3 separate regions of the Homo sapiens genome follow, and regions 2 and 3 are each linked to region 1. Evidence: fine-mapped expression QTL. A gene starts in region 1. Each other region holds a variant in brackets. All regions are shown on one strand. Distances are from middle to middle.

Evidence for each region. PIP is the estimated chance that this variant, and not a neighbour inherited with it, causes the effect. A credible set is the group of variants that fine-mapping cannot tell apart.
Region 2: its variant is the best candidate, but not a certain one, in a credible set for the expression of TIMM10 in whole blood (TOPMed, PIP 0.61).
Region 3: its variant is the best candidate, but not a certain one, in a credible set for the expression of TIMM10 in whole blood (TOPMed, PIP 0.60).

What each region holds. Positions count from the first base shown.
Region 1 is chr11:57,528,533-57,535,366 of GRCh38, forward strand. TIMM10 (translocase of inner mitochondrial membrane 10) reads right to left here and starts at 2,222. Exons shown (of 3, transcript NM_012456.3): 1 at 2,126-2,222; 2 at 1,587-1,702; 3 at 1-386. The coding sequence starts at 1,657. The coding sequence ends at 185. RefSeq lists an enhancer at 2,222-2,401.
Region 2 is chr11:57,627,164-57,635,971 of GRCh38, forward strand. No RefSeq gene overlaps it. Among named protein-coding and RNA genes, the nearest start is that of MIR130AHG, 6.8 kb to the right of the region's middle. The variant C/G (reference allele first, on the strand shown) is at 4,012.
Region 3 is chr11:57,554,999-57,563,077 of GRCh38, forward strand. UBE2L6 (ubiquitin conjugating enzyme E2 L6) reads right to left here. Exons shown (of 4, transcript NM_004223.5): 2 at 5,339-5,434. Among named protein-coding and RNA genes, the nearest start is that of UBE2L6, 8.6 kb to the right of the region's middle. The variant C/T (reference allele first, on the strand shown) is at 2,923.

The DNA of each region.
Region 1 (6,834 bases):
ACAGTCACATTCCAGTGTGACAAATACTCCTTCACCAGGAGACAGCGCTACCACTCCGGGATCTTGAAGACTCTCTACAGAGAGCCTAGGCCTGGCAGTCTTCACAGATGACACCCAACAGGGAGCACGTTTATTAAAGTGGGAAGGGGTGGGGTACACCCCAGGGTGTATACTGACAGGGACCTCATGCAGGCCCAGAGCTCTGCTGCACCCTCTTCATCAGCTCTTCATCCTGCATAGACAACTCTGTCAACTTTTTGCCCATCCGCTCATGGATGTCCAGGTACTTAGAGACACATCGGTCCAGGCACACAGACTCGCCCTTGGAGAGCTCTGCTTCCTTGTAGTGAGGAGGCACACACTTCCGGTGGCAGGCACTGGTCATTCTGGAGGGAGGGAGGGGCAAGGTCATGTCAGCAGCATCCTGTGACATCCCAGGAACCTTGACCATTCCAGCCCTGCTATATTGATTTCACCTCCCCCAAGAAAGCAGTGTAAATCCTCAGTTTACACCTCAACCACTGGAAGGTCCTTGCAAGTAGGAAACTTGTCTAAGTCCATGTATATGACTAACTAAGTAGAAACCATTTGTTGAGGACTGGCTACATGCCAGGCATCCTGCTAAGTGCTTTACCTGCATTCTGTTATGCAATGCTTACAATAACCCTAAGAGACATGTATCCCCATTTTACAGATGAGGAAATTAAGGCAAACAGAGGCTCAGTAATTTTCTAAGGATCACACAGAGCTGGGTTATGAAGCCAGGTCATCTGACCTCACAGTCTACACTTAAAAATCCTTCTAATTTATAGCCTTCAGGATAAACCAACCAATCAAGAGAGCTTAAGCCAATAAAAATAGCAGACATTTCACTAAGTGTTGGGCTTGAGGCTAAGGGCTTTCATATATTTTTAGATTTAATATTTATGATGTCCTATGAGGTAGGTATCATTATGTCTTCTTCATAATGAGGAAACCAATTGTCAAACAGTGCAAGTAACATGTCCAATTATACTGCTGGTGATTGGTGGAGCCAGGATTTGTTCCCAAATTTGCCAAATGGTTATGAGCACTAGTTGCAGAATCAGACTGAGGTGCTAGTTCTGGCATTGTTACTGACCAGCTGCCGACCCTAAGGAAGTTACTTAACCTCTAGAATCATCAATTTCCTCATTTTAAGACGGGACTAATAAAATTAACCCACTGGATTATTTTGAAGATTAACAAGTGCCTGACACAGAATAAAGGGTTTTAAAATGTTAACTACTAAATGGGCTGGCTATGTGCTATTTGTCAAGAGGCAAATACTCAGCTTTTCTTGGAACCTAACCAGAGCCTGGATTGGAGTTTCTCTTCCTGCTTGGCTCCTGCATTGCCAGTTCCATCCCCATCTAAATGCCCAACTCATTCTAGTGACCCTTTACTGCATCTACATTAGGATCAACCTTGAAGGTGGGTGTGGGGAGGGTAAGCATGGGCCTCAGGCTCCCCTACATTCAGGAAGGAATTTGTCATAAGTCATTCACCTTCGATAAGGGTGACCAAGACTTATTTTCCAAGACAGGGTAGCACATAGTTCTCTTTACCTGTTGTACATATCGGCCATCATCTCCACCTCCAGCTCCGCAGCCAGCTGTTGGGCCCTGAGAGGATCCATCTCAGCCTAGCACCGTGGAAGGGATCTCCTTCTGGCCTCCTAATCCTGGGAGCAGACATCACCATCAGCACCCACCGCCGCCGTTCACTCTCCTACCCCTGGGGCTAGAGGATACAGAGGACTCACAGGGCGCCAGACCACCACGGGCCACTAACCTCAGTGAGCTTAACCACCCCATTTCACGGATGTGGAAACTGAGGCCTAGCCCAAGGTCGCACAGGACGTCTATGGCGAGCCTGGAAATCGAGCCCCGGATCTCTGATGCCCCAGTTCCTGGAGGTCACCTCTATTCAGGAGATCGAGGACCGGAGGAGAACTCTCTAACCCACGAACCTGAACCTCCAGGGCCCTGGGAATGGGATCATACGCTGAACAGAGGCGACCGGGACCCAGCCCAAAGGCTACACCTCTGAAATGGCGACGCCATCATCAGGGCCACATTGAATTCAGAGGTCATGTGTCACTTACCACTGCCTGGGACGGATCACAATGCCCACGGAGACCCCAACTTCTGACAAATACTATAACGTTACCCGCCTCCCGAGAGGCTCCAGCGGAAGCACGTGGGTTACTTCCGGGAGGAAAGTCCCGCCTCTTCTTTGATTCAAACTCGCTTCCGGAATTAAATACCAACGAGACGGCGCCGGGAACTCGGCGATCATAGAGAGGGAGCGGCTGGCGCCGGGCGAAGAGGAAGGCGACTTGCCAGTGCTAGAGAGGACACCAAAGTACCATAGAAGCTTGGGCGGGGTGCAGAGCGTCTGCAGCCCGATCAGAATTCAAGTCCTTTGGGATGTCACCGAGCGGCTTCAGTTTATTGGTTCTGTAGGAAGAGGCGTGGCGACAGACACCTGTGAACCTCACCCCCGTTCCAGACAGCCGACTCCTGTGCGCAAATCAGGCGTGGAGAAGGAAGAACGCCCCCAAACAGCGGTTCTGTTTTTGTTTCGCGTTAAAATCACCTGGAACGTTTTTAAACATCCCAGTGCCCAGGACTCACCTCATTTCAATTAAATCAGAATCTCTGGGAGTACAGTTTAAAATTCCTCAGGCAGCAATACAATTTAAAATTCCCCAGGTGATTCGTATGTACAGCCAAATTTGAGAAGCAGTGCTCCACGGGACGTTGTGCGATTACTGCTGTGTGTAGGTCACACTAAGCCCCGTCTGGGGTTGCAAAGATAAGCGAGATAGGCTTCCTGTTCGCAGAAAGACAAGACGTGTAAAATATGTTTTCTTCAACAGTTAGAGGTCCTCAGCCACAAAGAGATAATAAAAGCAATTTCGGCTGCCACCAGGGCTAATCTTGGGTGAGGGAAAGAAGGGTACTGGTGAACTTTCCAACTTTCAAGACTTAATGTGTTCTTCAAACTGCACCATTCACTCATTCCCCACTAAAAAGAAGGAAACAAGGAAACAATACTCAGTCCCTTGATTTGTCACACAATTTCCTGGTAAAATAAATTTACAAGATGTAAATTAATGACGCAAGGGCACATTGCCCATTGGAAAAGGTGGGCTAGACATTTTCTGTGTGGTCATCATAAGCTTCCCTAATTGTCCAAGACCATCCTAATTTTAAACAATTGACCTTTCTACTGCTTTGAAGACTCATCTTTGCCAAACTTGTGCCCTGATTTTTAAAGATTGGGGTATAACATTCATAAAGTGCATAAAATACACGAATGTTAAGCTTAATTAAATATATATGTATCTATATATGTACATTTGTATAACCGCCATCCAGATCAAGATATAAAATACTTCCTGCACCCCAAAAAGTTATCTTGTGTTCCTTCCCCATCAATACCCCCTCTCGAAGTTAACCACTATTCTGACCTCTATCACCATCAATTAGTTTTCCTTGTTCTTGAACTTCGTGTAAATGGAATTATACATTATTTTCTATTTTGTGCCTGACTTCTTTAGCTCAATGTACCTGTAAGATTTCCTCCATATTGTTGTGTGCATCTGTTATTCCTTCTGTTTTATTGCTGTCTAGTGTTTGATTGTATGAGTATGCCACAATTCATCTATCCATTCTCCCGTTGGTGGATGTTTGGATTGTTTCCAGTTTTTGCCTATTATGCAATAATGCTGCTATGATACTCTTGTACAGATGGACATATCTTGCCTTGGTTTTTGCCTTTGAAAATATAGTCAACATTGGCCGGGTGCAGTGGCTCACGCCTGTAATCCCAGCACTTTGGGAGGCTGAGGTGGGTGGATCACCTGAGGTCAGGAGTTCGAGACCAGCCTGGCCAACTTGGTGAAACCCCATCTCTACTAAAAATACAAAAAAGTAGCCCGGTGTGGTGACGGGTGCTTGTAATCCCAGCTACTCAAGAGGCTAAGCAGGAGGCTAAGGCAGGAGAAACACTTGAACCCGGGAGGCAGAGGTTGCAGTGAGCCAAGATCGCACCATTGCACTCCAGCCTGGGCAACAAGAGTGAAACTCCGACCCCCCACTCCCCGCAAAAAAGAAACATTATGGAAAGTTAAGAAACTGCGTGGGAAAAGGAGATGGTTTCTTACAAGAGGAATCTTGCAATATCTACTGGGCCTTATGAAAGGTTGCATACTGTATGATTTCATTTAAGTAACATTCTCAAAATCACAAAATTATAGAGATGGAGAAGAGATTTCTGATTGTCTAGTGTTAGGGTTGATGGGGAGATAGAAGTGTACCTGTAAAGGGTAGCACAAGAGAGATCTTTGTGTTGATGGATAATTCTGTATCCTGATTGTGGTGGTGGTTACAAGAATCTACACAGGTGATAAGATGTCATAGAACTGGCAGGGTGCGGTGGCTCACGCCTGTAATCCCAGCACTGTGGGAGGCCCAGGCGAGCGAATCACAAGGTAGGAGTTCGAGACCAGCCTTGTTGGTGAAACTCCGTCTCTACTAAAAATACAAAAAATTAGCTGGGGGTAGTGGCGGGCACCTGTAACCCCAGCTACTCAGGAGCCTGAGGCAGGAGAATCGTTTGAACCCGGGAGGTGGAGGTTGCAGTGAGCCGAGATCGTGCCACTGCACTCCAGCCCAGGCGACAGAGTGAGACTCCGTCTCAAAAAAAAAAAAAAAGCCAGGCGCGGTGGCTCACACCTGTAATCCCAACACTTTGGGAGGCCGAGGCGGGTGGATCACGAGGTCAGGAGATCGAGACCATCCTGGTTAACATGGTGAAACCCCGTCTCTACTAAAATAAAAAAAATCAGCCGGGTGTGGTGGCATGCGCCTATAGTCCCAGCTACTCAGGAGGGCGAGACAGGAGAATCGCTTGAACCCGGGAGGCGGGAGGCAGAAGTTGCAGTGAGCCGAGATTGTGCCACTGCACTCCAGCTTGGGCGACAGAGCAAGACTCGGTCTAAAAAAAAAAAAGAAAGAAAAAAAAAGTCATAGAACTACTACACACACACATTGTACCAATATAAATTATCTGGCTTTGATATTGAATATAGTTATGTTAGATTTAACCTTTAGTGGAAGTTGGTAAAGGGCGTACAGGACCTCTCTGTACTATTAATGCAACTTCCTGTGAAACTATAATTATTTCTAAATAAAAAGTTTTAAAAATCTCTACAAAAAAGAAAACAAATAAGATTATACAAGTATGAGTAAGAGCTGGCCATAAAGAAAGAAAGAAAAATATTTATATAAAAGATTGTGTAAGTAAAGTACCTAGTCCATGGTAGATGCTCAATAAAAATAAATCATTGTTTTCATTCTTTTTCATTTTTAAACTTTCACTGGGGCAAATTTATTTTTATTTTTACTTAGGATTTTTGAGGCAGGATCTTGCCTTGTCACCCAGGCTTGAGTGCAATGGTATGATCAGTGCTCACTGCAATCGTGAACTCCTTGGCTTAAGCAATCCTCTTACCTCAGCCTCCTAAGTAGCTGGAACTAGAGGCATGAGCCACCATGCCTGGCTAATTTTTTTTTTTAAGAGATAGGGTCTCATCATGTTTCCCAGGCTGGTTTCAAACTCCTGGGCTCAAACAATCCTCCTGTCTTGGCCTCTCAAAGTGCTGGGATTACAGGCATGAGCCACCCCATGCCCAGATGGAATATTTAAAACATACAGAAAAGCAGAGAGAACAGGACATTGAGCTTCCATATATTCATCACCAGGACTTAGGAATTGTTAACATTTGTCCATATTTTCTTCATCTATTTTTATCTCTAACAGATAAAGCCCTTTTATTTATTTATTTTTTCCTTGAGACAGGGTCTCTGTCGCTCAGCCTGGAGTGCAGAGACCCAATCATAGCTCACTGTTAGCTTAAACTCCTGGGCTCAAGCAATCCTCCCATCTCAGCCTCCTGAATAGCTAGGACTACAGGCGCAAGCCACCATGCCTGAGTGGTTTTTAAAATTTTTTGTAGAGATAGGGTCTTGCTATGTTGTCCAGGCTGGTTTCAAACTCCTGGCCTCAAGCGATCCTCCTGCCTCAGCCTCCCAAAGCACTGGCATTACAGGCATGAGTCACTGCACTGGGCCCTGCTTAACAAAAAAAATTTTTTTAAACGGAGTCTCGCTCTGTCACCAGACTGGAGGATAGTGGCACGATCTCCGCTCACTACAGCCTCTGCCTCCCAGGTTCAAGGGATTCTCCTGACTCAGCCTCCCAAGTAGCTGGGACTACAGGCGCATGCCACCACACCCAGCTAATTTTTGTGTTTTTAGTAGAGATGGGGTTTCACCATGTTGGCCAGGATGGTCTCAGTCTCCTGACCTCATGATCCACCTGCCTTGGCCTCCCAAAGTGCTTTATACACCGCGCCCGGCCAACAAATTTTTAAGTGCACAAAATAGTATTGTTAACTATATGTACCATATTGTACACAGATTTCTAGAACTTATTCATCTTGCATAACTGAAATTGTATACCCATTGAACAGCAACTCTCCATCTCCCCAGCTGCTCAGCCTCTGGAAAACCATTGCTCTTATTGATGATGATGCTATTGTTATTATGATTATTTACTATGAGACTGTGTCTTTCCTCTATGTGGAGACCTACAGGTAGGAATCTCCAATGGTCCCAGTTGAATTGCTTCTTGTAGAAGACAGTTTAGATAGCCTCAGACTTTGAAGATATCCTTAGACTCCAGATATGTCATCCAAAGCTACTGATCTCTGTCAACACCATGCTGAAACTCTGGCTCCTCATT
Region 2 (8,808 bases), 100 kb after region 1:
CTTTCAGTTTCTCCAGGGTCCAAAGAGCTGTAGCTACCAAAAAGAGATCCCTGGCACTAATTAACTGGCAAATGTGGTAAGTTCACCACTGAGGACCTACATTTTCTAAACTAAAATCATGGCACAAGGTCTCAGAAGTCTCCATATTTATGGGATCCGCTAAAACTGAAAATTTTGAATCAAAGCTCTCCCCAAATATATTTGGAGAATAGAACATTGTAGTTATATTCACTAGGCTCATGACCCTAAAACCCTCTGGCTGGCTGGAAATTAGTCATGTCTAGCAGTCAATCAACGATTTTTCTAGCTAGGCCAAGGGTTCAGATTACTCCTCCTGAGAAACTTTCATTTGATCTGGGGAAATGTAAAAAGGAAAAATGAAAGGGCACAATCTCTGCTCTCAGGGAGCATCTTGGTCTGATGAGGAATTAGACACAAAATAATCATAACAGCACAGGTGGTAGGTGCAGCTAGACAGGCAACTCGGAATAAGTTTGGAAGGCCTTGAGTTCCATGCTAAGAAGTTTGGAATGTATCCTCTTGAAGAAGTTCTGACCTGGAGGAGATTAGAGCGTGTGTTGGGGGCAGTGGTATGTGAATGAACTCCAGAGGGTTCACGATCCCCTTGAGATGTATACCTGTATTAGTCCATTCTCACATTGCCATAAAGAACTACATAAGACTCGGTAATTTATGAAGAAAAGAGGTTTAATTGACTCACAGTTTTACAGGCTTAACAGGAAGCATGACTGTGAGGCCTTAGTTAATGTACAATGATGGCAGAAGTCGAAGGGGAAACAAGCTCCTTCTTCACATGGTGGCAGGAGAGAGAGAGAGCAAGGGGAGAAAGGCTACACAAGTTTAAACCATCAGATCTTGTGAGAACTCAATCACTATCACCAGAACAGCAAGGGGGAAATCCACCCCCATGATCCAATCTCCTCCCACCAGGTTCCTCCCCCAACACTGGGAATTATAATTCAACATGAGATTTCAATGGGGACAGGGAGCCAAACCATATCAATACCGTAATACAAAAAAAAAACAAAAAACATTTTTCTAGAAAGAGTCACCCATAGGTTTCATCAGCTTTTTTTTTTTAAGTGTCCGTGATCCAATAATGTTTAGGAAGCATTATCTAAATACTAGGGGCCAGGCATGGTGGCTCACACCTGTAATCCCAGCACTTTGGGAGGCTGAGGAGGGCAAATCACCTGAGGCCAGGAGTTCGAGACCAGCCTGGCCAACATGGCAAAACCCTGTCTCTACTAAAAAAATACAAAAATTAGGCCAGGTGTGGTCACTCACACCTGTAATCCCAGCACTTCGGGAGGCCGAAGAGGGCGGATCACTTGAGGTCAGGAGTTGGAGACCAGCCTGGCCAACATGGCGAAATCCCATCTCCACTAAAAATACAAAAATTAGCTGGGTGTGGTGGCAAGCGCCTATAGTCCCAGCTACTCCAGAGGCTGAGGCAGGAGAATCGCTTGAACCCGGGAGGCAGAAGTTGCGGTGAGCTGAGATTGCATCACTGCACTCCAGCCTGGGCAACAGAGTGAGACCCTGTCTCAAAAAATAAAATAAATTAAAATAAATAAATACTAGAGAGCCATCATAATTCGGGACACACGAATGATCTGAGGTTTGTGTTTTAGACTTACACGCTGATGGAATGGGACTTGAAAGGAAAGTTATTCAGAGGATGACACAAACCCTCAAGGGGCAGGGGAATGGAGAGAAAAGGAGTCATCTAAGAGGTAGAATGCACAGGATTTAGGGCAATTTGGGTGAAGGTGGCAGAGAGTAAGAGAAGTAAGGATTAGAATTATGATTGCAACCCTAAGATAAAAGATGTAAAAGAAATTTTGATTGACTTTGAAACACAAATTCTTTTAATCTGCCTGGAGATAGAAAGTTTCACAAATCAAACCCCAGGTGTCTTCTGATCCACAAGGTCATCAGGCAGTTTCTCAGAATTTCATTTTAGTACGTGGTGTATTCAGATAGGAGAGTCAGATACACTACTATCCTCTAAATCATGTGACTCCACAGCCAGAAATTCTGTAAGATTCTAATAGCCTAGAGTAACTTGTTTATCAGTATTTAAGATCATGTTTCATGGGACACTCCAATCTGCAACCCATGTTGCATGGGCTACTCCTCCTTACTGGCGCAGCCAATGAGGAAGGGTAAAGATGATCCTGTGATGGTTTTCAGCCTAAACAACTGTGGTAGGCTTTTAACTGTGAAATAGAATCTAAGAAGAAAAGCAGGTTTGTGGGGATGGGGAAGGTGAAGGTAAGACAATGAAACTGGGTTTGGGCAAACTGCATCCAAGACATCTCTGTGACATTTTATCAGTCAGGAATTTTTTTGGTTATGAGTGACAGAAGCCAACTGAGACTAACATAAGGAGAAGAGGAAATGTTGTGGTTTACATAATTAAAAACTCAAGAGGGCCAGGCACAGTGGCTCATGCCTGTAATCCCAGCACTTTGGGAGGCCGAGGGAGGCGGACCATGAGGTCAGGAGATTGAGACCATCTGGCTAACACAGTGAAACCCTGTCTCTACTAAAAATACAAAAAAATTAGCTGGGGGTGGTGGCAGGCGCCTGTAGTCCCAGCTACTCGGGAGGCTGAGGCAGGAGAACGGCATGAACCTGGGAGGCGGCGCTTGCAGTGAGCCGAGATCGCGCCACTGTACTCCAGCCTGGGCAACAAGAGCAAAACTCTGTCTCAAAAATAAAAAATAAAATAAAATAAATAAAAACTCAAGAGGTTCACCTGTAGACATGCCTCTAGCAGGTTCCCAGGCACCTGTCTCTCTCCATCTCTTGCCTCTGCTTTGCTCTGTTATGTTGGCATTTTAGGCAGATCTTCCCCCATTCGGCAGCAGTTATGGCCATCAGCAGTTTCAAGCTTTGTCTACCAGCGTAACAGGGATGGCAATACCACTTTCCCAAAGATTACAGCAAACATCTTAGGCCTAATTGTGATTGACTCTGATTGGATATCCTTGATCCAATTATTATGACTTAATTGGCTAAGTCTGGTGTGGGTGATAGCCTCTAAGACAGCCCCCAGTGATCCTACCTCCTAGTAATCATGCCTTTGTGTAATCCTCTCCTCTTGAGTAACTTACTTCTAACCAGTAGAATATGGCAATGTGGAGAGGTTGTCACTTCTGTGATTAGGTTACAAAATATTGTGACTTCATCCTGCTAGTGGACTCTCTCTCTCTTGCCGGCTTTGACAATGCAAGCTTTCATGTTGGAGAGGCCCACATTGCAAGGAACCTAGCATGGCCTCCAGCCAACAGCAAAGAACGGAGGTCCACATTCCAACAGCCCTTGAGGAACTGGATCTTCCCAAAAAACTATGAAACTGAGCTTGGAAGCAGATCTGATCCCCATTGAATCTTCAGATTAGACCCCAACCCCTGGATGATACTTTGATTGCAGCCTCATGAGAGACCATGATCAGGGGACCCAGCTAACCTCTGCCCAGATTCCTGAACCACAGAAACAGAGAAAATAAATGTGTGTTGTTTTAAGCTACTACGTTTTGGACTAATTTGTTATGCAGCAATAGACAACTAATATATCTGGATTGTGTGACTGTCCCTGAAGGGGCAGATGAGGCCAGTCTCATGTGAACCATGTGGTCTGAGGTCAGAGAATAGGTGTCTTCCCAAAGGAAAACTAAGATGTAGTTACCAGAAGGGGGATGGAATATCTGGGCAGGCAAAAGCACCAGCTGCTCACCTCACACATCTATTTGGGAATGTAAGGAGCTGGCAATACAACTAGAGATATAGATTTGGCAGTGATTCATGTATGGGTGATTGTTAAAACTGTAAGAATGGATGAAATTTCCCCCAAAGAGAGGAGAGTCAAGGACAGATCTCTCAGGAATGGCAACAATTAAGGGGCAGATGGAAAAAGAGACAAAGGTGATTAGGTGAAGGCAGAGGTGTAGGAAGACATATGTTTGATGTTGCCCAAATTCAG[C/G]TTAGTTGGCTGGTAAGACATACATCTGAGGAATTGCAACCTTCTGTTAGAAATCTGGGTCTATATGAGTGACTGTTGAAATCAGGCATGTGGATGATTTTGTTCACCGAGAGAGTATAGATGGAAAAGAAGACCAAGGACTAATCCACACAGAATCTGTATATTTAGGCAACAGGGGAGTAAAGAGGACTCACAGGAAGGGAGCTGAGAAGGAACAGTTGGAGAGGTAGGAGGGAATCCAGGAGAGGCCAGTCTGCCAGAAGTCATGGGCATTTCAAGACTGATATAGTCAGTACTGGCAAGTGCTAAAGAGAAGATGCATGTGATGAGAATTGAGAGGAGAATTGTGGATCAGTAATAAGGAAGTCATTGGCATCCTAGTAGGAAACATTTCAGTGGAAATTGGGGGGCAGAAGTCAGATTGCGCAGATTTAAGAATGAGAGAGACATGGGCTGGATGTGGTGGCTCACACCTGTAATCCCAGCACTTTGGGAGGCAGAGGTGGGAGGATCACTTTAGGTCAGGAGTTTAGAGCAGCCTGGCCAACATGGTGAAACCCCAACTCTACTAAAAATACAAAAATTAGCTGGGTATGATGGTGGGCACCTATAATCCCAGCTACTCAGGAGGCTGAGGCAGGAGAATCACTTGGATCCAGGAGGCAGAGGTTGCAGTGAGCTGAGATCACACCACTGCACTCCAGCCTGGAGTAAGACTCTATCTCAAAACAAACAAACAAACAAACAAACAAACAAAAAAAAACGAACGAGTGAGCCATGAAGGAGAGATAATATAGAAAGCTGACTAGCATTTCGAGAAGCTTCACGACAGGTTGAGGGAAGACTTGAGCATATGTATAGACTGAGATGAAAAGTCTGGGCTTCGCCCTTCCACTCCCATCTCGGAGTAATTTCAGTTGCGTTTCTTGAGTTCTATTACATCTTTCTGAGATGGCAAGGTCTAAAACTGCCCATAAATTTAGGAGTTGGCAAACTTCTATTGTGAAGAGCTGGGCAGTAAATATGCCAGGCTTTTGTTGGTCGTATGGTCTCTGTCGCAACCACTCAACTCTGCCATTGTCGTGGTTGTAGAAAGCAGCCATAGACGATGTGTAAACAAGTGAGCATGGCTGTGTTCCAATAAACTTCATTTACCAAAAAACAGGCAGAGGCAGAATTTAGCCCTGTGGGCTGTAGTTGGCTGACCCTTGCCCTAGGTTTATGGAAAGGGATTAGAGATGCAATAAATGGGGCAATTGATGGAGTAAAGGATGAGAGCTAGACCTCAAGGAAAGAGGTTTACCTCAGAAAGAAGGCACTTACGTCTACCTGGGCACCTGTGTGACTTTCTCTTTTTTTTTTTTTTTTTTTTTTTGAGAGGGAGTTTCGTTCTTGTTGCCCAGGTTGGAGAGCAATGGTGCGATCTTAACTCACCGCAACCTCCACCTCCTGGGTTCAAGCGATTCTCCAGAGTAGCTGGGATTATAGGCACGTGCCACCAGGCACAGCTAATTTTTGTATTTTTAGTAGAGATGGGGTTTCACCATGTTGGTCAGACTGGTCTTGAACTCCTAACCTCAGGTGATCCTCGGCTTCCCAAAGTGCTGGGATTACAGGCGTGAGCCACTGCAGTCGGCCGTGACTTCCTCTTTATGTGTCTGCCTTGCATTCTCCTCAACTGTGAGCACTTTCCGGGCTGGCAGTGTTTCCCAGCGATGGTTCCAGAGCCTTGCATACAGGCAGTGCTCAGACACAGCAGCATTTGAGAGAAGCAGGATGGTAAAGGTGAAGAGGCACCTTACTGTGGAAGGAGGGGAAATGAAAGAGGCTCATATGGAAAAGCCTCTATCATCATCTCAAGTGAACTAGGAGCTGTGTTAGCCAGACATGGTGGCTCACACCTATAATCCCAGCACTTTGGGAGCCTGAGGCAAGGGGATGGCTTGAGCCATCCCCTATCCCCTATAGGGATAGCCATCACCTATCCCCTATCTCAAGGGGTTTGAGACCAGCCTGGGCAACATAAGGAGACCCTGTCTCTACAAAAAATACAAAAATTAGCTAGGTGTGGTAGCATGTGCCTGTAGTCCCATCTAGTTGGCTGCAGCAGGAGTGTTGCTTGATCTCTGGAGGTCAAGGCTGCAGTGAGCCATGATGGCACCACTGCACTTCAGCCTGGGTGACAGAGCAGGACTCTGTCTCAAAAAAAAAAAAAAAAAAAAAAAAAAAAAAGCCATGTGTTATTAGCAGTTGAGTTACCTACCTCCACTGATGTTTAAGCAAGGAGGCAACTCTCTCCAGCGTTTCAGATTCAGTCCTTCCAAGAGGCAAAGGTTTAGGGCAGATGGTCTCCCTGTCTCACATTTATAGTATTCTACGTGATACTTTCTATTCTTCAAGACTCAGATGCTGCTTCCTCCAGGAAGCCTTCGTGGATTCCATTCTCCATTGGGAGCAATCCTTTTTTTCTACACGATTTACCCAAATAGGCATGGAGGGACCCATATCTGTATATGACAATGGAGGTTAGGGAGGGAGGCAAAGGAAGCACCTCCAGAATAGTCTTGGATTGCTGTGGGGGTGGTGGGAAAGGGAGGTTCCTGCAAAGCCCAGGTGCATTCTGAAACTCCCATAAGAGGAGTGAAGAATGTGGAGGTGGGGTAGGGTGGCTAGGAGCCAAGTAGCTCCTGGGTGCATTTTTTACACTCCTGTAACAGGTTGGACCACGTCTAGCTGTTCCTGGCCTCCATTTCTGACTCTCCTGAGAAGGGGTGGGGCCACGTGGGGGTTTGGAAGGTGGTGAGTGAAAAAGGAGGGTCCTTCATGCAGCTCATACCTACACACTGGGAATCCAGAGATAGGAGACTGAACTGAGAGACACCAATGAGAGTCCATTCTCTACTGAGCAATTGGAGCCCATTTTGCCCAGGGAAGGATGTTTGTGGACAACAGACGGGCCCGTAGACTAAGGCAGAAGAGGCAGAGAGCTGAGCATGGAGGCCCTGGGGCAGCTGAATGAATAGTTGCGGGGTTTGTCTTGGTGAGGAAAAGATAAAAGTATGTTCAAGGAAAATGATGTCTTTGGAGCAGAGTAGAGGCTGGAGAGATGTGTCCAAGCCCTCCATGATCTGTCCCAGCTGCCTTTTCTTCCTTTCTATTCCCCTTCAGACACCCCAGGTTCCCACTGAATCTCCAGCCAATCCCACCATTTCCCCACCTCTCAGCCTTTGTGTTGTTCTCTCTCCTTGGCATTTCCTTGTCTTCCTTTCTCCCATCTTCTTGTGTCTAAATACTTTCTATTCTTCAAGTCTCAGATGCTGCTTCCTCCAGGAAGCCTTCTTGGATTCCATTCCCCATTGGGAGCAATCCTTCTTTTCTCTGAACTCCTTATATCTCTCACCAGAGCAGTCATTTAGCAATGTCTCCTAGTAGTAAGGAAATATTCAAGATAGCAGCCATTTCCCAGGAAGCTCTGTGTTTCCCCTCATGCACATTACCCAGGCAAAGGCTCTCCAGAAGCAAGACTGGACAAACACTGTATAAGCTCAGGCCAGTGCAGCCATCTCCTTTATCAACTCCCTGCAGCAGTTGTCTCTCTGTTAGGTTAGGGCCCTATATGCACAAGTCATAGCCTGTAGCTACCAAAATCCTGGGCACCCTGCCCTCCTTATCCTCCAAAACCCCCAGCTAATTCTGTCTCTTGGTCAGTCCAAGGATAAACTCAGAGTCCTTCTTCTCCCGCCCCTCAGCTTCCTCTTCTCATGGTGGCAATGCCACAAGGGGGTCCTTCAACCATATTCAGGGAGTGGGCTCTGGGCTGTCCATCTTCTTGTAATCCTGGCATACCCAGGAGCTCTGGATTTCCACATGTCAATTGGAGGACCCATCTGGCCCTTAAATCTCGGCTCTCATTTGGCCAAGGTCAGAGAAGCACATCTCTTGAATGAAGTTAATGATGTACATGTATGTGTGTGCTCCCGCAGGAGCCCCAAAGAGATGGACTAAGTTTACAGGTGCACGTTAACTCATGAGCGAACACATCAACCTGCTGTTCTGACTGTCCTTGGGCAAGTGACAGCCCCTATCCCCACCCCGTCAACGTCTTGGTTTCTATTTTTGAAAAAACAAGGTTGGACAAACCTGCAAATTCCCTTTTAGCCACAATCTTTCATTGTGTAGTGGGGTGGGTGTATCTCAGCTCCCTTCTCAGAGAAGTGGTTGACATTCATAAGGAAAGGATTCCTGACAAAGGTGACAGGAATTTGAACCTCATTTCCGGGGAATTGATGCCCTTTATGATTTGTGATTTGAACCTGTAGGAATTCATGCCTGAGGATGAAAAGAAAGGGTTTTTTTTTTCCCCCAGCAAGAATCATAGAATGAACTGGGCGCGGTGTCTCATGGCCGGGCGTGGTGGCTCACACCTGTAATCCCAGCATTTTGGGAGGCCAAGGTGGTCAGATCACGAGGTCAGTAGTTTGAGACCAGCCTGACCAACATGGTGAAACCCCATCTCTACTAAAAATACAAAATTAGCCAGGCCTGGTGGTGCACACCTGTAATCCCAGCTACTTAGGAGGCTGAGGCAGGAGAATCACTTGAACCCAGGAGGCAGAGGTTGCAGATCGCGCCACTGCACTCCAGCCTGGGCAACAAAACCAGACTCTGTCTCAAAAAAAGAAAAGGATCATAAAATGGGCCAGTAGGTGGGGTGGCTCATGCCTGTAATCCCAGCACTTTGGGAGGCCAAGGTGGGAGGATTGCTTGAGCCCAGGAGTTCAACACCAGCCTGGGCAA
Region 3 (8,079 bases), 27 kb after region 1:
AAACATTAGAATGGGGGTGAGGAAATGGAGAAAATGAGGAAATCCTAAGAACTCAGGAGCTTAGGAAAATAAAATGGTGCAGCTGTGATGGAAAACAGTATGGCCATTTCTCAAAAGATTAGACACAGAATTACCATATGATCCAGCAGTTCTACTTCTGGGTAGACACCCAAAGAACTGAAAGCAAACAGGTATTTGTATACCAATGTTTCTAGCAGCCAAAAGGTGAAAGCAAACCAAGTGTCTATCAATGGATCAATCAACAAAACGTGGCATATACACACAATGGAGTATTATTTAGCCTTAAAAGGAATGAAATTCTGATATATGCTACAACACGGATGAACCTTGAAGACACTATGCTACAGGAAATAAGCTAGACAAAAAAAGGACAGATTTGCAAGATACCACTTATGTGCAGTACCCAGAATAGTCAAATTCATAGAAACAAAATACAAAAGTGGTCACCAGGTGCTGGGGAAAGAAAGGAATGGGGAGTTACTGAAGGGGTACAGAGTTTCAGTACAGGTAGACAAAAAGTTCTAGAGATGAACGGTGGTGATGGTTGTGCAACAATGTGTGTTTGTTTGTTTACTGAAGCAGGGTCTCGCTCTGTCACCCAGGCTGGAGTGCACTGGCATTATCATTGCTCACTGTAATCTCAAACTTCTGGGCTCAAGTGATCCTCCCACCTCAGCCTCCTGAGTAGCTGGTACTACAGGGGCCCACCACCATATCTGGCTAATTAAAAAAATTTTTTTGATAGGGTCTCACTGTGCCAGGGCTGGTCTTGAACTCCTGGACTTGAGCAATCCTTTTGCTCTGGCCTCCAGATTACTGGGATTACGAGCGTGAGCCACCATGCCCAGCTGTAATCCTATTTAATCCTATTTAATGACACTGAACTATATACTTAAAAATGGTTAAGATAGTAAATTTTGTTATGTGTATTTTACTATGATTAAAAACAAACAAACTCAGGGGCTGGAGTGACCTAGGGGTTGGGAGCTGCAAGGAGCCAGCAGAAGACCCTCTAGACTTTGAGCCACCTGAACACTTTTCTGAGCACCTGTCTGTGCTGTCCTGTGCTAAGGGTTTGACATGCATTAGCCTGTGCAACAGAGTATGGGGGTCACACAGACTCCGGAGCCACCCTGCCTGGGTGTGATTCAACTCTGACACTCACTAGCCATGTGATCTAACTAGGTCAGGTGCGGTGCCTCACGTTTGTAATCCCAGCACTTGGAGCCACCCTGCCTGGGTGTGATTCGGCTCTGACACTCACTAGCCATGTGATCTAACTAGGCCGGGCACGATGGCTCACGTTTGTAATCCCAGCACTTTGGGAGTCCAAAGTGGGCAGATCCCCTGAGGTCGGGAGTTCAAGACAAACCTGACCAACATGGAGAAACCCTGTCTCTGTTAAAAATGCAAAATTAGCCGGGTGTGGTGGTGCATGCCTGTAATATCCGCTACACGGGAGGCTGAGGCAAGAACCGAGAGGCAGAAGTTGAACCTGGGAGGCTGACGTTGTGGTGAGCAGAGATCACACCCTTGCACTCCAGCCTGGGCAACAAGAGCAAAACTCCGTCTCAAAAAAAAAAAAAAAAAAAAAAAGAGAGATGGAGTAAAAAAAAGTAGGAAGATAAAGAAAATATCTCATTTTTTATGGTCTCAGTAAGGAGAAAAGGCTGTGCCTATCAGTCAGAGAAGGCCAACAGCTGAGGCCTCAGAGCAGGATGGGAGGGTGCTGTGGTTGGATGTTTTGTCTCCTCAAATCTCAGGTTGAAATTTGATCCCCAAGACCTACGTGGCGGTGGCTCGCGCCTGTAATCCTAGCACTTTGGGAGGCTGAGGCAGATGGATTGCCTGGGCTCAGGAGTTTGAGATCAGCCTGGGCAACATGATAAAACCCCGCCTCCACTAAAATACAAAAAGGTAGCTGGGCGTGGTAGCATGTGCCTGTAGTCCCAGCTACTCAGGAGGCTGAGGCATGAGAATTGCTTGAATCCAGGAGGCAGAGGTTGCAGTGAGTCTTGCTCTGCACTCCAGAGTGAGACTCTGTCACCAAAAAAAAAAAAAAGGAAAGAAAAGAAAAGAATTTGATCCCCAATGTTGGAGGTGGGGCCTACCAGGAGGCGTATGGGTCCTGGGGGCAGACCTCCCACGAATGGCTCCGTGGAATGGCTCCGTGCCAACCTCACAGTCATAAGAGAGTTCTTACTCTATTACTTACTGAAAAAGCTGGTTGTTTAGAAGATCCTGGCACCTGCTCGCTCTCTCTCTCTTTCACTTCTTCTCTTGCATGTGATCTGTACACGTGGCTCCCCTTTGCCTTCCACCATGAGTGGAAGCTTCCTGAGGCCTCATCAGAAGGAGATGCTGGTGCCATGCTTCTTTTTTTTTTTTTTTTTGAGATGGAGTTTCACTTTGCTGCCCAGGCTGGAGTGCAATGGCGTGATCTCGGCTCACCGCAACCTCTGCCTCCTAGGTTCAAGCGATTCTCCTGCCTCAGCCTCCCAACTAGTTGGGATTATAGGCATGCACCACCACACCCAGCTAATTTTGTATTTTTGGTAGAGACAGGGTTTCTCCATGTTGGTCAGGCTGGTCTTGAACTTCTGACCTCAGGTGATCCGCCCTCCTCGGCCTCCCAAAGACATGGGATTATAGACGTGAGCCACCATGCCCAGCGCCATGCTTCTTGTACAGCCTGCAGAAGCTTGAGCCAAATTAACCTCTTTTCTTTATATATTACTCAGCCTCGGGTATTCCTTTACAGCAACACTAATGGACTAAGACAGGGGTATCAGTGTGTCCTGCCTGAAGGGGCTTCTTTCTGGGCTTCGTAGGACTTAACAGAGGAAGGAGGTAGCAGAGTCATGGAGCTGAGAGCTCCGGGGACCTGTCCCAGCTCTGCCT[C/T]GGGCTTGCTGTATGACTGAGCTTTCTCTGAGGATCAGTTTCCTCGTCTGTAAAATGGAGAAGCTGGACCAGAGGATTCCATGCTGTATCTTACAGTCAGTTGAGAAAGTCCCACTACCTTCTAAGTTCTAGGTTAAATAAAGGATTTTGCTACTTTATTTTGTTTTGTTTTTTTGAGACAGAGTTTTGCTCTTGTCATCCAGGCTGGAGTGCGATGGCCCAATCTCAGCTCACTACAACCTCCAACTCCCGGGTTCAAGTGATTCTCGTGCCTCAGCCTCCTGAGTAGCTGGGATTATAGGTGCCCACAACCATGCCCAGCTAATTTTTGTATTTTTACTAGAGACAGGGTTTCACCATGTTGGCCAGGCTGGTCTCAAACTTCTGACCTCCAGTGATCCACCCACCTCAGCCTCTCAAAGTGCTGGGATTACAGGTGTAAGCCACCGTGCCCGGCCTGCTACTTTTTAAAAAATTTTGAAAACTATTCATTTTTCATGGAGTGGTTAAAAGAGAAGACCCTGGAGTCCGCTGAATTCCACTCCTGCCACCTTATTCTGAGTGACCCCAGACCAGTTACTTAACCTCCTTGGTTTCCATCTCTGCAATTTTAAGAGGAAGACAACCTTCCTCACTGGATGGTTGAGAGGATTCAATATGACCTCATATGTCGTGTGCTTAAAACAGCACTTGGTCCACAGGAAACTCTCAAGGAATGAGAATTTTACTATTAGCTTCGAAAGACTCATCGAGCTGAATCCTTCCATGACCAAGATGTGACAAGTGGGGCCACTTTGGTGAACACATAAACTGAGACTGAGCCTTTGAGGAGGAATTTGTGTGCTATTCCAAAAGACCTTTCCTGGTTCTCCTTCCTCTGCCAGTCAACCATCCCCTCCTTTATGGCCTCACCAGGCACCTTCAGGCCCCCTTAGCTGATGACTTACATCAAGCTTTGGTCCTCCAGCTCTGGGATTCCTCCCAAGTATCATGTTTCTTCAGGACTCCTATATGGCTGGAAGGTCTGTGGCCAGTTCCTGGGGCGCACTTAACCACCTTGGTCTTGCCAACTATTGAGGTCCTCTGATTTCATAGTACTCTGCCAAACGAGACCTTTCCTAGGTTTTCCTATCACCCCTGCTTTCATCATCTCAAAGTTGGTCTCCTTGGAGATATAATCAGTCCCTGGAGCTCCTTTGAGCATCTTCTCCCGGCACCTGAGGCCTAGAACAGGTGTCCTCACTCTAAGCCAGGTAAGTGGATCGTTTCAACACAGTAACCCAAGGGACTTGACAGAGGTTCCCATGTTGACCTGACTCAGGCCTTTCTCTACTTTTCTGGACTATAGGTCAGTTTAAAGAGAAGACGACACAACCTAGGCCACTGCATTGTCAATAAAAAGTAAATCCTGCCGGGTGTGGTGGCTCCACCTGTAATCCCAGCACTTTAGGAGGCCGAGGTGGGCAGATCACTTGAGGCCAGGAGTTTGAGACCAGCCTGGCCAACATAGCAAAATCCTGTCTCCACTAAAAACACAAAAATTAGCCAGGCATAGTGGCACGTGCCTGTAGTCACAGCTACTCAGGAGGCTGAGGCAGGAGAATCGCTTGAACCCCAGAGTGGAGGTTGCAGGAAACGAACATCGCATCACTGCACTCCAGCCTGGGTGACACAGTAAGACTCTGTCTCAAAAAAAAAAACAAGTCCAAATCCTAAATGATAAGATGAATTGTTCCTTTGATATTCCAAAGAGCTTTGACTAACAAAAAGTTCAATGTCTTAAATTTTATTTCCAAGTAATGAAAAGTGTAGATTAATTTCTCAAAGTATCTTTAGTCACTAATAATCGGATGAAAAAAAGAGAGATCTTGCACTCTGAAAACTATTTTGGAATACTGCTTTCAGAGAGACTTTATCAAGAAAATACCAAATAATAAACAGAGAAAAATAAGAACAGTAGAAATGAGCTATTTGTGTTTTCATATGTAACAATTTTCTGAAATAAGACTACAGAAAAACAAAATACAATTTAGGTTTGCGGGAGCAAATTCTCCCAACTGTGAGAGCCTGGAAGTTTATCCCTACCCCTTGACAAAGGTCCAAGAAATCTTTATTTCTTCTTCTTTTTGATGCTGTTTGTCTCCTGAAGTTCTGTGGTGGGCTTGGTGGCTACCGGTTTAAGGAAGGGGTCTCCTACTAAGTCAAAAGTCCTTTGGCATCTTTATCAGAAGGTGAACCTCAGAAGTATCTGGATCTCAGAAGCAATCAATTCAGAGAGAAGCCCCCTCCAGCAATGATAACCTCCAGTAAAAGGATCTCAAGCAGGGAAAATTCTTGCCTAGTCCTAACCCTCCCTGCCCATGTCCCTGGCCTAATTTGGCCCCAATCCAAAGCCATGGTCCCCATGGATACTCACGGGTAGGAGGAGAGCGTGCCACACCAGGACATTGGCATCATCGCTGGACAGGTTCCGCAGGTATGGGGGAGGCTTCTTCTGAAGATCCTCCAGCTCCTGCAGGGGACACAAGTGAGTGGGCAGTTGGCCTAGTCCTCCTTATTTCAGCCCCCTCCCCCTGCCCCAGCAGCAAGCTGCCCCAAGTTCAAAACTGGCCATCTTAGGGGCAGAAGCCGGTAAAGTCAGAGCCTACATTTACTGAGCACTTAGTATGTATCAGGCATGGTGCTGGTGCTTTTTCTTTTTTCTTTTTTTTTTTTTTTGAGACAGAGTCTCGCTCTGTTGCCCAGGCTGGAATGCAGTGGCGCAATCTCGGCTCCCTGCAAGCTCCGCCTCCTGGGTTCACGCCATTCTCCTGCCTCAGCCTCCCGAGTAGCTGGGACTACAGACGCCCGCCACCACGCCCCGCTAATTTTTTGTATTTTTAGTAGAGACGGGGTTTCACCGTGTTATCCAGGATGGTCTTGATCTCCTGACCTCGTGATCCGCCCGCCTCAGCCTCCCAAAGTGCTGGGATTACAGACGTGAGCTACCGCGCCCAGCCGGTGCTGGTGCTTTAAGTGAATTTTCTGACTGTGGCCTCACCACAACTCTGGTACACCTAGGTACTAGGTGCAGGGAAAAATAGATCACTTCTCCCAGATATTAAAACTTGGGAGTAAGTGCTCTTAGGAGGCTTTTCTCCTGAAAGCAGGGTACTTAACCTCTGCTCTCTAGCCTTCTTCCTAGAAAGTCACTAGGTTCTAATTCCCTTCCTCTCTTCCTTTCTTCCTTCCGTAAGCATCGACTGAGCATCTGCAGCAAAGACATGACCCCACCGCTTCAAACTCTGCCAGATCAGGGCTGGAGAAGGGAAATGACTCCGGAAGACCATAGCAGAGAAGAACTCTACACACCAAGTGGGGAAACAAGGGGGCAAGGAGTGACTCATCTTCCCAAAACTGTGGCCCAAACACCTGAATATCCCTTCTGAATTCTCCCAACAGCCATTACTGAGCATCTTCTACTGACATTTAACTGAGACAGGACCCAGTCCTCAAGAATTTCAATAGAGTAATGGACGAAACATGGATGTGATTATGTGAATGTGTATGGATATACGGTAAGGAAGGAGATGAGAGGGGAGAAGGAAGGTTTCACAGAGGGTGCACTCTGTGAGCTGGGCCATGCAGAATGAACAGGAATCCATAAAGCAGAGAAGGGGAGAAGCACCAGGGCAGAGGGCCCAGATGGGAAACATAAGTACAGTATGTCCTGCAGAAGGTTAATAGGTAGTACAGGAAAAGGGTTCCAAGGTCAAGTACATTTGGTAAATCTCGGCTAAAGAGGTTTCTTCACTGGAGAACTTCCCACAGCCTTTAATATGCTATTGTGTATGGTGATTGACCAAGCTGTGGGCCCACAGCATGCAGTACTTCTCAAATGTATTTGACAAAGGAATGCTGCCCCTCTTTTAGAGTCCATCTTGTGGGACTACAGGCCTTTTCTTGTTGGGGAAGATAAAGACACTCAAGGGCAGGTCACATTTCTCTGGAACAATGAATTGGTACAAACCAGTGGTTCTCAACCAGGGGCGATTTTACCCAGCCAGGGACATTCGGTAATATCTGGGAACATTGTTCCGTTGTCATAAATCGGGAGAGTGGATAGAGGCCAGAGATGCTGATAAACATCCTAACAAAGAATTATCTGGCCGAACAAGAGGGGAGACCGCTGCCCTGCAGGGTGAGTCTCAGGCCTGGTCACATTCACCACAAGCTGACTGAAGGGCCTTTGGGCCTTAGGCGAACATCAGCAGTAGTACCCTGGCAGTACTCCTCATAGACCCGTGGTGGTGGTGGACAAGGGGAGAGACTCCTATATCTGGGGAAAAGGGAGGGAAGAGTGGGAAGGACTGTGTCCTGTGGTTTCAGTGCCAGCTTAGCTGCAGTAGCACAGAGCACTAGAGAGATTTCTAAGGTTTCCGACTCCAGGCCCTGGCCCATGGACAGCAACTGTGGACCTCTCTGGGGCCCAGCAGTGAACTAACCACCCTAAGGGGAAGAACACAAGCCTGGCTGGCTTCACCACCTGCTGATTGCAGAGCCCTAGGGCCTTGAGCGAACGTAGGGCATAGCCAGGTAGTGATTACAGCGGGCCTTGAGCAAAACCCAGTCTTGTGCTGGCTTCAGGCCTGACCCAGTGCAGTCCCAATTCTGGTGACCATGGGGATGCTTGTGTCACACCTCACCCAGCTCCAGGGAGCTCAGCACGGAGAGTAAGACTCCATTTGTTTGGGAGAAAGTAAGGGAAGAAAATGAGAGTCTCTACCTGGTAATCCAGAGAATTCTTCCTGATGTTATCCAAAACCACAAAGGTAGTAACCTCTAAAAGTCTGCAAGAACTACAGTGTTACTAGGCTTGGAGTGCCCCCTTATGTAGACATGGCTGCAGTGACCAAAACTTAGATCACAACAGCCAAGCCCCTTCCAATACCTCGAAAGCCTTCCCAAGAAGGATGAGTACAAACAAGCCCAGACTACAAAGACTATAATAAATACCTAACTCCTTAGTGCCCAGACACCAACAAACATCCACAAGCTTCAAGACGATCCAGGAAAACACAGCCTCACCAAACGAACTAAATAAGGCACACAGGGCCAATTCCAGAGAAACAGAGATATGTGACCTTTCAGACAGAGAAATCAAAATAGCTGTTTTGA